Linked DNA regions of Homo sapiens: regions 2 and 3 are each reported to be linked to region 1. Evidence: microRNA targets listed by miRTarBase, many of them from high-throughput screens and not tested one by one. Region 1 holds a microRNA gene; each other region holds the end of a gene's coding sequence.

Region 1 (4,241 bases):
GTGGGAGAGGGGGAAGAAGGGTGGGAACTTTCTTCTCAAGTAAGAAGGAAAACACTGGAGAATTCAATAGGTGTCCAAGAGTTTCTGGAAGTTCTACAGGCAAATGTGATCAAAGACCTTCAGGAGAAATGTGTCCCATAAGTGACAGCATCTATTGAACTCTAAAAATGAATGTGTCTGCACCAAGAAAACTAGATGTTCAGCTTCCAGCATGATAAACATTTCATATTTGAGTCACCTCTGCTACGCCTAACAAGCAGAGGCGGACGAGCTGCTGTGCCAAACGCTCCCAGATGCACACTCTCGGCAACTTGTTGCCATGCAGCATTGTATACAGTCACGCACCACGTGACGACGTTGCAGTCAACGACAGAACACACGAACAGAGGATGGTGCCAGAAGATCATGATGGAGCTGAAAAATCCCCATTGCCTAGTGACGTCTTGGGGATCCTGACCCTGTGCAGGCCTAGGCTGATGTATGTGTTTGGCTTGTTTTTAACAAAAAAGTTTTAAAAAATTAAAAACTTACAAAATGGAAAAAAGCTTACAGAATAAGGATAAAAAGAAAAAGTATTTACTTTTGGCTGGGTGTGGAGGCTCATGCCTGTAATCCTGGCACTTTGGGAGGCTGAGGCAGGAGGGTCGCCTGAGCCCAGGAGTTTGAGACCAACCTCGGCAATATAGTGAGACCCCTGCCAAGTAAAAGACAGACAGACAGACAGAAAGAAAGAAAGAAATTTTTGTACAGCTGTACAATATATTTGTGTTTTAAGCTGAGTGTTATTACAAGAGTCAAAAAGGTTTTTAAAATTTAAAAGTTTCTAAGGAAAAGAGCTGCAGTAAGCTCAGGTTAATTTATTTTTGAAGAAAGAACATTTATTTCTATAAATTTAGCATAGCCTACAGGTGCCTGAATAGAAAAAGCTTACAGCAGTGCAAAGTAACGTCCCAGGCCTTCACACTCACCCACTGACGCACCCGGAGCAACTTCCAGTCCTACAAGCTCCACTGATGGTAGATGCCCTATACAGAGGCACCATTTTTCATGTTTTACTCTTTCTATGTACTGTACTTTTTCTATATTTAAGTATTTTTAGATATACAAATATTTACCCCTGTGTTATAGCTGCCTACAGTGTTCAGTACAGAAACATGTTGTACAGGTTTGTAGCCCAGGAGCACGAGGCTACCCCTATACCATACACCCCATTGCTCCCAGGCTACAGACCTGTATACCATGCTACTGTAATGAATCAGCACACACATTTGTGTTCCCAGCAGCTGACAAGATTAATCTTCAGGATGCCAGGAAGGGACTCGGAGAAAGCTACAAGCTGGGGCCCTGGCTTCCCCGGTAAGAAATGTATGTCTGCATAGAGTTCCTCCAGACAGGCCTGCTCCCTGCCTCTGGAAGCCTGGCAGAGAGGAAACGCTTTCCATCCGTATTTCCCACTGGCTGGCATCATGGCGTGAAGAGGGGTGTGTGTGTGTGTGTGTGTGTGTGTGTGTGTGTGTGTGTGTGCGTGTGCGCGCGTGCGCGCACGTGCAAAGAGCTATCAGCTATTTCCAAAGACGACTCAGTAAATAAGAGCTTTTCTGTAAATCTGAGTATCTGAAGGACTTTTGTGGGGAAAGGTGTGAGGACATGTTTTCGTTTGGCATCAGAGTATGTTTGGCAGGGGCAATGGGTAGAAACCACAGGGGCGTAGATTGTTTTAGGTTTAATAGACAGAAAGACATTCTAACAAACTCATCCAATCATCAAATAATGGGCTGCTCTGAAAGTGGCCACGTCCCCACTGTGGGAGGTGATCCGCTTGAGACTGACAGATCTGGGATGCTGCAGGCGGAATCCAACATGAGGCGAGATACCCTCGGTGTCCCTCCCATTCCCAGAATTCTGCGACGATATCAACAGAATCTATAATGGTCTGCTAGAGTTAGGAAAGATAGTTCAATTCACCTTTCTCATTTTACACAGGAGGAAACCAAGGTGGATAGGAAGGGACTGGACCCGAGGCACCTGAGTCTATCTTTCCATCCCCTTATCAAAAAAGAGTCAGTCAGCAGGGGCAGGGAGGTTTGTTCAGCATTTCAGTGAAGAGAAAGGGGTGTTGGGAGATGGGAGGGAGGACAGTGAAGTACAAGTGGCTTCCATTTTCCAGGGCAGATGACACACTGGGCACCTCCACACTTCCCTGGAGAACCCAGGCTGGCTCGGAACACAGTCCCTAGGCCTCAGCACCAGGAGGCTGAGACCCACGGGAATGACACTGTGGCAGAAGTCAGCTGCTTTTGCAGTACATAGCAGGATGGGGTTCCTGTGACTGAAGGGGCAGACACGGAAACTCAGACTGGAAGAGCTTTCTACTGTAGAAAAGAGGTTTTTACTGTGGGAAAGAGATTTTCTACAGTAAATCTTTGCTGTCACCTTAGATGGATAAATGGATGGACGGATGGACAGACGGGGATGGCAGGACGGCAGTCAGGTAGGCAGGCAGGCATTATTCTAGTGCTTCCCTAGGGTAAGAGAAAGGTTCACCCGACTCAGGCTGCAGACATAAAAAAGTGAAACCCATGCCCTCTGATAATGACCAACATTCCCTCTATGGTGTAGAAGCTATGAATGGCCTGGCTGGATACAGTTTCCACTAAAACCTACACCACTGAGATTTCCCAATGATCAGAAGCCCTCAGCAACAGTCTGAGAGCAGCCATGCACGGCTGCCTTTAATTACACACTGATCACAGCATCACCAGGGCCGTCACCATGCTGGGAGGAAAAGCGATAACATCATTTTGCTGGAGAGAGCCCCACACGTCAGAGCAGAAATGCAGCCTTTGCCAAATGTGACTGTGGACAGAGATGAGAGATCCACTCGGACAGCGCTCAAACGCCAACGTAGGACCCTCAGTGCTCCTATAGGTTTGAATGAAAAGACTATCTTTAACATACACCTGTATACTGCAACCCACCCCGGCCCAAAAAAATAAATGGGACTCAGTGACCCAGGCTATAAGGTGGCTGGGTAGGAGACTGCAAAACATCTCAAGAGCTGCTATTTCCTAATTCAGGAAATAGAGGATGTGGTCTAAGAACCATCACTCCAGGACCTCAGGGGCAGAGGGGACAGGCAGGGGACTGAGCCCAGGAACCTGGGTTCTAGTCCTGACCAAGCGGCCCCGGGTGAACGCAACTTACCGAAAACTTAGTGTCTTCTACAAAACAAGGATAAAACCACCTGCGTTCTTATGTCACTGAATTAGTATGAGGAGCAAATTTAAAATATGAATGTAAAACCAATTTGCACACAGTTGAGCACCGTTCAAGCACACAGGACGACAGCACTGCTATAAGCCCTGGCCAGAAGCACACAAGGTGAAGTGGGCAGCTCACAGGACGCAGGGAGCTGCCAGGAAGGCCACTGCATGTCTGTCAAAGGGCATGGAGACTTCAGCCTGGACAAGAAAAATAAATAAATAAATAAAAACAAGCAGAGGTCCAAGGAGATAAATAACTTATTCTTTGTTTTAGACCATTTTTAGAAGTGGCGTCGAAGGGTAAAAACCTTCATCAGAAAGGCCTGGACCCAGAAAACAGGTTCTCAAACTGAGAAATGAGCACAGGATTGAGTGTCTAAAAGGAGATGATTACACTGCAACTCGTTCGAGTCCTAGGAGGCTGTCCACAAGCTTAGGCTTAGCTGCAGGCAGCCAATGGGATCCTTCAATCATACAGGTACAGCCTGCCACAGTGCCCAGGTGCCTCATCAGCTTGCTGTGGGGGCCAGGACAGAGAAGGGGCACTGAAGGGAAGAAAAAAGTGGAGGGAGAAACAAAGTGGGGTGTGACACTTTTCTTCTGGGGCAGGGGAAGGGGTGACATGTAGGGACAGGGGCATTACAAACTGAAGTTTGAGATGCTTTAATAATGGTGCTTCAAAAATCCTTGACCCCATATTGTTGGAAGCTATTTTCAGCTGGCAATTTACAAAACCACACATGGTCAGCTCCAATCTGGCCACAGTTTCTGCACCTTTGCCATTGGGCTTTCGGCACTGGTCTTCTGCACCATGGATAAGAGCACAAAGCCATGTTTTCCCACATGGGTAAAGGGTGGGGTAAGGGTGTGCACCTGCCTGTAACCTCAAAGACCGTGAAGAGAAAGGGGCTAGTGGCAGCTTCATCCAAGGCAGAAGGTGATTCCTTCCTGCACAGCACACTCCCTTTCTAGGCCAGG
Region 2 (4,241 bases), not on the chromosome of region 1:
CTGAGGAGCCTGAGGTCCCTGTGTGAGGATTAGACAGTGGAATGTTATGTGTGTAGGGGAATCAGCTTAATGTGTCTGTCCATGTCTGAATTTATTGCAGAAATTGAAAAGTACCAAGAAGGGGAAGAAGATCAAAAGCCACCATGCCCCAGGTAACTTTCAGCAATTGTGGTCGCTTAATTCTGTGTTAACACCTGGAGACAACAGATCCAGGGAAAACAGTGTGTTTGATTTCATGTTTTCAATGAAGGCTGAATTACTCCTGCTGACATTGCTATTGGTTTTCATTGCAGTAGACGTTTAGGTTTTCATTTCTTCCTCCCCTTATCATTTACTAATGTACCATAGGTTGACCATACCTCAGAAGTTGTACCCTTATGGCGACTGCATGGAATTTTAAGCACACTTGATGGAAAACTATTGAGCTCACTCTTCTCATGATCACTGTTTGCTGTGTGTCCTGAGGGCACTAACTCACAGTGTCCTTTTACTCCCTCATCAATGTGTCACCTGGCCAATTCACTGAGCTCACTTTCTCTCTCTCTCTGTCTCTCTCTCTCACTCTCTGTCTTTCTCTTTCATTGTTTTCTACTTGGCCCTGTTCTATCCCAACATAAAGGCAATAATTTTTTTACCTCATTAATGGAACTATCCTTTTCCTTTTTTGACCACTTCCTTATGTTACCCCTGAAATCTAGTTGGGGCTCTGTGGTGTCTGATTTTCCCTGGCTGCTTCTTTAGTTTTGTCTCCTTTTCCAGGCTCAACGAGGTGCTGATGGAAGCAGAAGAGCCTGAAGTCTTGCAGGACTCACTGGATAGATGTTATTCGACTACTTCAACTTACTTTCAACTACATGCCTCATTCCAGCAGTATAGAAGTGCCTTTTACTCATTTGAGGAACAGGACGTCAGCTTGGCCCTTGACGTGGACAATAGGTTTTTTACTTTGACAGTGATAAGGCACCACCTGGCCTTCCAGATGGGAGTCATATTCCCACACTAAGCAGCCCTTACTAAGCTGAGAGATGTCATTGCTGCAGGCAGGACGTATAGGCACATGTAGGTTTGAATGAAACTGTAGTTCCCTTTGGAAGCCCAGTCATAGGATGGGAAAGTGGGCATGGCTCTATTCCTATTCTCAGACCATGCCAGTGGCCACCTGTGCTCAGTCTGAAGACGTTGGACCCAAGTTAGGTGTGACACGTTCACACGACTATGTAGCACATGCCGGGAGTGATCTGCCAGACATTCTAATTTGAACCAGATATCTCTGGGTAGCTACAAAGTTCCTCAGGGGTTTCATTTTGCAGGCATGTCTCTGAGCTTCTATACCTGCTCAAGGTCAGTGTCATCTTTGTGTTTAGCTCATCCAAAGGTGTTACCCTGGTTTCATTGAACCTAACCCCATTCTTTGTATCTTCAGTGTTGGTTTGTTTTAGCTGATCCATCTGTAACACAGGAGGGATCCTTGGCTGAGGATTGTATTTCAGAACCACTGACTGCTCTTGACAGTTGTTAACCCACTAGGCTCCTTTGAGTAGAGAAGCCATAGTCCTTCAGCCTCCAATTGATATCAATACTTAGGAAGACCACAGCTAGACGGACAAACAGCATTGGGAGGCCTTAGTCCTGCTCCTTTCAATTCCATCCTGTAAAGAACAGGAGTCAGGAGCCGCTGGCAAGAGACAGCATGTCACCTGGGACTCTGCCAGTGCAGAATATGAACAATGCCATGTTCTTGCAGAAAATGCTTAGCCTGAGTTTCATAGGAGGTAATCACCAGACAACTGCAGAATGTAGAACACTGAGCAGGACAACTGACCTGTCTCCTTCACACAGTCCACGTCACCACGAATCACACAACAAAAAGGAGGAGAGATATTTTGGGTTCAGAAGAAGTAAATGATAATGTAGCTACATTTCTTTAGTTATTTTGAACCCCAAATATTTCCTCATCTTTTTGTTGTTGTCATTGATTTTGGTGACATGGACTTGTTTGTAGAGGACAGGTCAGCTGTCTGGCTCAATGGTCTACATTCTGAAGTTGTCTGAAAATGTCTTCATGATTAAATTCAGCCTAAACGTTTCATCAAGAACACTACAGAGTCGATACTGTGAGTTTCCAACCTCAGCCCATCTGTGGGCAGAGAAGGTCTAGTTTGTCCATCAGCATTATCATGATATCAGGACTGGTTACTTGGTTAAGGAGGGGTCTAGGAGATCTGTCCCTTTTAGAGACACCTTACTTATGATGAAGTATTTGGGAGAGTGGTTTTTCAAAGTAGAAATGTCCTGTATTCCAGTGATCATCCTCTAAACGTTTTATCATTTATTAATCATCCCTGCCTGTGTCTATTATTATATTCATATCTCTACGCTGGAAATTTGCTGCCTCAATGTTTACTGTGCCTTTGTTTTTGCTAGTGTGTGTTGTTGAAAAAAAAACATTCTCTGCCTGAGTTTTAATTTTTGTCCAAAGTTATTTTAATCTATACAATTAAAAACTTTTGCCTATCACTCTGGACTGTTGGATTGTTTTTTACATTCAGCGTTATAATCTTTTGTTATGCTGATTGGTTTTGGTGGGTACTGATGCGAATTAATAAAAACATTTTCATTTCCCTGTTTATTTTCTAATCTCTTCCACCTTGTAGGCTATGTTTACCATATGTAGCAGAATGCATGTACTCCATTTCTTGGTTCTAGATATTTATATTCTTTGTGAGAGTGTGTGTGTGTGTGTCTGCGTGTGCCTCTGGCATTTAGGAAGGGTTGTGTAGCTCATGTTTGATATTGACTAAAAATGTTTCATAGTTTTCCCCCCTTTGAACTAGACACACTTCTAATATTTGGTTTATACGTTTTAAATTATGACTTTCAACATCACATATTTCCATATGACAGTCAATTACATGATGTGTTTTCTTTTTCCTACCTCCTTTACCTGCCACTTCTCATAATCGTATTTGAACCTAAACATACACCAGTGACATTCTGTGGTTGTCATCTTGCCCACACCTTGGTTTTTGGTTTAGATCCACAATTAAATATATTAATGCTCATGAGCTGTTCAAAAGTGAATGTCACAGTCATCACTTGCTGAGTGGTACTCATCCTAACAGAGTCCTCATGAGGGAATCAGGTCTCGCTGAGTTTAGCATGTTTAATAATCTTCCTCACGGTCTTGATACATGGATCGCATTACTGGATATAAGGTGTTTGCCCAAAATGATTTTTCTTGTGTTTTTAGGAGCTATTGTCTTCCTTGCGGGACATACATGGTGTATGTTCTCGTTGTGGGATTCTATTTTGTTCTACCAGGACCTATAATTTCTGCCAGTTACTTCATTTGTTCTCTTCACCATGAGTCTCCAGCGGATGCTTCCTTTGTCCATGCCTCCCCATCTCCCAGCAATTCTGCGTTTCCAGGACTGGCACCTCTGGTCCTCTGCATGGTGAAGCCCCTTCCTTTCAATTCCCCAGTAGCCAGTGCTCTAATCCACCAGGTCTCAGGCATGATCTGTGTTTCTCCACATGCTCTTTCTGAGGATAGTTTTACCTGTGTTCTGTCATGAACAGGCCCTCCCTGCTGTCCTGGCCTCGATTTGCTTAGTGTTTCCTGCTCCCTCTGCCCTTGTGTGGCTCCCAGACCAAGTGAAAGAAAATCACCTGAGGGCCACAGTGTTCCCTAGCCCTGGCGTTTAGGGACAGGGTTATGGGTGGGATTTTTGACTCTCTAAGTTAACCCCTAGGGCTTTGAAGTGTCTGTTGAGAAATTCAGCTGTTATCATCCTAGGTGGTCTTGCTCTCTCCTGTCCTCCTACTTCAAATGCAGAACTTCAATCGTGTACAAAAGAAGACCGAGTCATATAACAGAACACACCCTTATTCATTGGCTGGCTTCACCAATCATCTCATGGCTGAACTTTTAAAAATACACTCTTAGCCACATACCTATGAAATGTATATGTGTGTGTATACATATGTGAATTTGCTTCTGAGATTATGGAGGCTGAAATTCCCAAGATGGAAGGAAAGCTGGATGGATACCCAGGAAAGCATTTGTTTCCTATTAGGCCTCTTAATTCTCTCCTGGCCTTTGATTGATTGTATGAGTCCCACCCCCGTTAAGGGGGCAATCTGCTTCACTTAGTCTGCCCATCCCGATCTTAATCACATGCGAAACACTCTCTGGAACATCCAAGAATTTGACATCCAAGAATTTAGCACTAATACAATAA
Region 3 (4,241 bases), not on the chromosome of region 1:
AGGGTGCTAGAAAGATGATCGGCCGGGCACGGAGCGGGGAGCCCGGAGCCGCGCGCGGGGAGGGGAGGTGGAGGAGGGGGCGCCGGGGGAGCGGGGGGCGCGTGAGGGGTGCGAGCGGGGCCCGGGGGGCGCGCGGTGGGTGTGGGGGGCGCCGGGCTCACCTACCTCTCGTCAGCGCCGCCATTGCCGGTCACATGACTGAGGCTGTTGCTGGGATGACGGTCCGGGCCTTAGCAACAAGGAGGGGGAGACCCCGAAAGGTGGGGGATTGCAGGGGGTGCAGGCTGAGGAAAAGGGAAGGAGGGAGGACAGCACCCCCTTTCCCCTCACAGGTGATAATCACCGTTCCTTTGACCCCCTTCTATCCGCAAGCCCCTGCCCTTCCTCCCCAAAACAAAAATGGAGGCGCTGTCCCAGTCTTTGGAGGGAGGGGGTGGCGTCATGGAACTGAGGGTAGGAGGTTAAATCCCTGGAGACGCCACCCTACTCGCTCCCCGCTCCCGGCGGAGCACTCTCCCTTTTCTTTCCCAGCCAGCTGCGTAGCAGCTCCCAGGAGCTGGTGGTGGATGGGTGGGTGAAGTGTTGGTGGGTATATGGGGATTCGGGGGGAGGGCGGCAATTTTTTGAATCCTTATGGTAGAAGGGCCTTTGAGGAACAATGTGGGATGGGAAGAGTCATAGTAAAAAGAAAAGCATTGGCTCTAAAAAATAAACAAATCCGGGTACTAAACTATTTCAATCCCCTCCCTCATCTCCTGCCTCTTTCTAGATTGTTACCTCCTATGACCCCCACAACCTGCTCTCAGATGATCATTGGTCAGTGCCTCTGATTTTTCTTTCCACAAACAGGGATATGGAGGCTGGTGCAGAATGGGAAGCGAATACATTTTTTAAAAAGTGGCTCGAGGTGGTGGTGGTGTCAAGTGTATGGTTCAAATAGAGTTAAAAACTCTCAAAGAAGAAAAAAAAAAAGCTCTGCTCTGCTTCCCACATCAAGCAGTCTCCGCCCAATCCAACTCACTTCCCTGGGGCCACATCAAGCCAGGTTTTTCCACCAGCCAAAAGACTTCCTCAGCCAAGACAGGCAGGAATCTCCCAAACTGGCAACAACCTCTATTCATCCACCCCTTTTTCACTCCCCCCTCTAGACTGGAGGGCTAGTCACTTTCTTCACTTTCCCAGGACCCTGCTGTACTCTTCCTTCCCTCCAGGAAGAGGACAGCTTTCCCAGGAAGCCTGGGGGAATACTAGATTCCTTTTCTTTTAGCTGGTGGGCTGAGAGGCCTACTCACCTTTACAAAGATGGAGTGTTAGCAAGCCCAGAACTCTGGGAAGAGGAAGGGTCCCATCACCCTACTCTTCCCTGGCCCTCACTACCGCTGACCTCCCACAAGGTTAAAGACTAAGTTTTCCATTCCCGTGCACACCCTTCACAGCCTTTTTAAAAAAGTTCACAGCCATCTGTCTAGAAACCCACATCCTTAGTTAGGGGCCCAACACCTTGAACACCAGAATTCTTCAGCTGGTCTCTGCACCCTTAAACACAGGCTCCCTGAGAGAAGTGAAATTTAAAAAAAAAAAAAAAAAGGCATTTCTGTACAGAAATTTGGATTGAATAATTTATTCCCTGTATTATTATAGTAACAGGAGCAAATACATAAATTTTTATTAATAAAACAAAAAAGATGAAAAACAGAAGCAACAAATGAAGACATCCATACTGCCCATAACACATCAGCCATATGATCAGAAAACCCATTTCTAAAGAGCAATGGTTGCTGGTGTCACAGAGTTTTATTGCATTCATCGGGGGAAAGGGAGATGGTTGGAATGAAAAAGATCCATCAGTCTTCTGACAGGAAGATGTTATATGGGGGCTCCAACCCCTAACTGGGTACTCCTCTTGCTACCACCTTTGGAGCAGAAGATGAAGGGGAGAGGGAGCTTCTCCCTATGGCCTCATGGCTTCTTGTGAGACAGATCAGTCCAGCCAGATACAGAGCAAAGCAGCTTTGCATCACCACAGGCCAGTTGCTGATGCCCAGCTTTATGTCTAAAAAAAAAAAAAGTGGAAGCCTCAAGGGGGATGGAGGATAGCAAGAAGAATGGGTGCCTTGGCCCCAGAGGCATTGTAGGGAGAGGAAGACAATGTATCTCATCAGGGTTCTCAACATTATGAGATTATCACACATCAACTATCTTTGGAGGGGCTGAGTGATTGAGTTATGGCTCTGACTCCTCTCTGGGGGTGGAGAGTGAAGATGACAAAGAAGGCCATCTGTCCCCTAGGAGACACAGTTGCAGTATAAGACAGGACAGAAGAGAACAGAAAAACAAATCCAACTGGAAAAAGGGGTGGGAGAAGGAAGTGTGCTAGGTACACACATCCAGGGAGTAGGGGAAGTTCCCACACTTGAGGCCTCCATCCTCTTGAAATGACCAGAATTGATCCAAGTAGAGATATTCCTTTCTTCTGGAAATAAACCTTGGGGATGGCTAGGCAGGATGAAAGGAAACTTTACATGGAGAATGAATCCTACACCCTGGCCCATCATTCCAGCCTCCAAAACTGGCCACACACCCACTGAAGGGTTCCAGTCCCAGGAGAGGTGTGAGGTTCTGGTGAAGAGCAGCAATAGTCAAACATCTTCCCCCAGGCTTGAATGCTTTTGGCCATCTCTGGGTTGCTGTGCCCAGATGTAGAGATGGGTGGAGATGGAATTGAGGTAAGGGAAGAGATTACTCAATCTATGACAGAGACCCAATCCAATTCTCTGCATAATCATGAGTCCTCTTAGGTCCCACCTCTGTGAGGTGCCAGGCTGCTGACCCACTCTCTACCCCACCTGTGTAGGAATGGCCATATTCCATCGTGTGTGTGCATGCCTGCACCCACATCTGTAGTATCTTGAGTGTCATCCATCCTAGGGCCCACCAGGAGGGAAGCATGCCATAGTGAGTTTTATAAAGTTATCAGCAAAATTCAGACACTTTTAGTTCATCCCACACAGCAAAGTGCATCCAGAGTAGTTGCTTGAGCCAGGTCCATCTGTCCAGTCAGGTCCTGAAGAAGGCAAACAACCCCCTTCCCCTAGCTCCTATATCATAGAAACAACAGGAGATATTACAAAGATCAAGGCACTTGGGAGAGAGTCAACAATAACATTCTAATACTACAAGCAGACTTCTCATGGGGAGGAAGAGAGGGAAGAAAAATGGGCAAAGAGGAAAAAGGACAATGTATTTCTGAGGGTCAGAAAGAGCCTACTCGACAGGATGGAGTTATCTGGATGGAAGGAGCCTGCAGCCTGAATTTAGCAAAGGAAGAAGAGAACTGGTGGCTAGAATATCCCCACAATTCCCCCAAGTGTCTCAGAACCCCACCACCTTGAACATCAGAGAGAACCAGGCAGTCTCTTAGGCAAAGATGTTGGTAATAAAATCCAGGAATCGCTTAGCATACTGCTCCGGATGGACAGTAGAGATCTCTGCCCCAGCCTGTGAGAGGAGATACGGAACAATATGTCAGGCCACCCTAGCACCCGTCCCCATCACCCCCACCCAATCTACCCCAGACCACCTCCATTCTTTTGCCACCCCATTGCTCTGGCACAAGAGACTCTATTCCCAAAGAATAGTCAAGACAGGAAAGGAAAGGCTTTTGCGAACTCTCACCCCATGCTTGACAGTTTTGGCTGCATGAGCTGCTTTCTTCTTAGCATCATACTGTGTAAGGATATCAATGAGGCCCATGAAGTAGACCTCCTTCTGGGGGGCTCCTGGGAGAGAGACCAACAATTCAGAGTAGGTTTAGTTCCAATTCCCTTTCTCCAGGAAGCAGTCAGTTTTGTTCTGAAAAGCTAATCAGGCTCTCCCCCAGCACTCTGGTCTCTGTCCTCCAGGAAAAATCCCCTCTCCACCCTTAAATTGTCCCGGTTCTCTCACCTTCAGCACTCCGGATGGCATAGACATCAATGAAGGACTCAAACTCTCCTGGGCCCAGGGGCCGATGGGAATGGATGTAGCCTCCGATACCCTCTGGGGAGGTGCCATAGGAGCCCACCAGAGCAGGAGGTCCAGTCAGGCTGCAGTCCCCATCCACCTCTGACTCATCCTCCCGCACGGGCGCTTCCTCCTCTGGTTCAGAGCCCCGAATGATGTCGTGGATGCCTAGCAGAAGGCTGTAGTCCATGATCTTCAGCTGCACTAGAAACTGAGACCCACTGACAAATCAGACACCT

The links. Region 1 holds the annotated microRNA hsa-miR-3137 (UCUGUAGCCUGGGAGCAAUGGGGU, at 1,206-1,229, opposite strand). A microRNA usually pairs through its seed, bases 2 to 8, with sites in the 3' UTR of a target mRNA and lowers its output. Matches are read on the target gene's strand: a 7mer-m8 pairs with bases 2 to 8, a 7mer-A1 pairs with bases 2 to 7 and ends in A, and an 8mer does both.
Region 2: the mRNA of NBPF3 is a reported target of hsa-miR-3137. Seed matches in the 3' UTR shown: 7mer-A1 at 2,099-2,105.
Region 3: miRTarBase lists PIP4K2C as a target of hsa-miR-3137. Seed matches in the 3' UTR shown: 7mer-A1 at 2,898-2,904.

What each region holds. Positions count from the first base shown.
Region 1 is chr3:195,133,346-195,137,586 of GRCh38, forward strand. It overlaps MIR3137 (microRNA 3137), which reads right to left and starts at 1,235; the gene lies at 1,161-1,235. All of the region lies in intron 3 of XXYLT1 (xyloside xylosyltransferase 1), which reads right to left. RefSeq lists an enhancer at 84-163.
Region 2 is chr1:21,482,384-21,486,624 of GRCh38, forward strand. It overlaps NBPF3 (NBPF member 3), which reads left to right. Exons shown (of 15, transcript NM_032264.6): 14 at 101-152; 15 at 760-2,517. The coding sequence ends at 1,003. Among named protein-coding and RNA genes, the nearest start is that of ALPL, 25 kb to the right of the region's middle.
Region 3 is chr12:57,600,783-57,605,023 of GRCh38, reverse strand. PIP4K2C (phosphatidylinositol-5-phosphate 4-kinase type 2 gamma) reads right to left here. Exons shown (of 10, transcript NM_024779.5): 8 at 3,946-4,213; 9 at 3,676-3,779; 10 at 1,606-3,498. The coding sequence ends at 3,418. DTX3 (deltex E3 ubiquitin ligase 3) reads right to left here and starts at 200. Exons shown (of 7, transcript NM_178502.4): 1 at 166-200. RefSeq lists enhancers at 1-318, 319-830.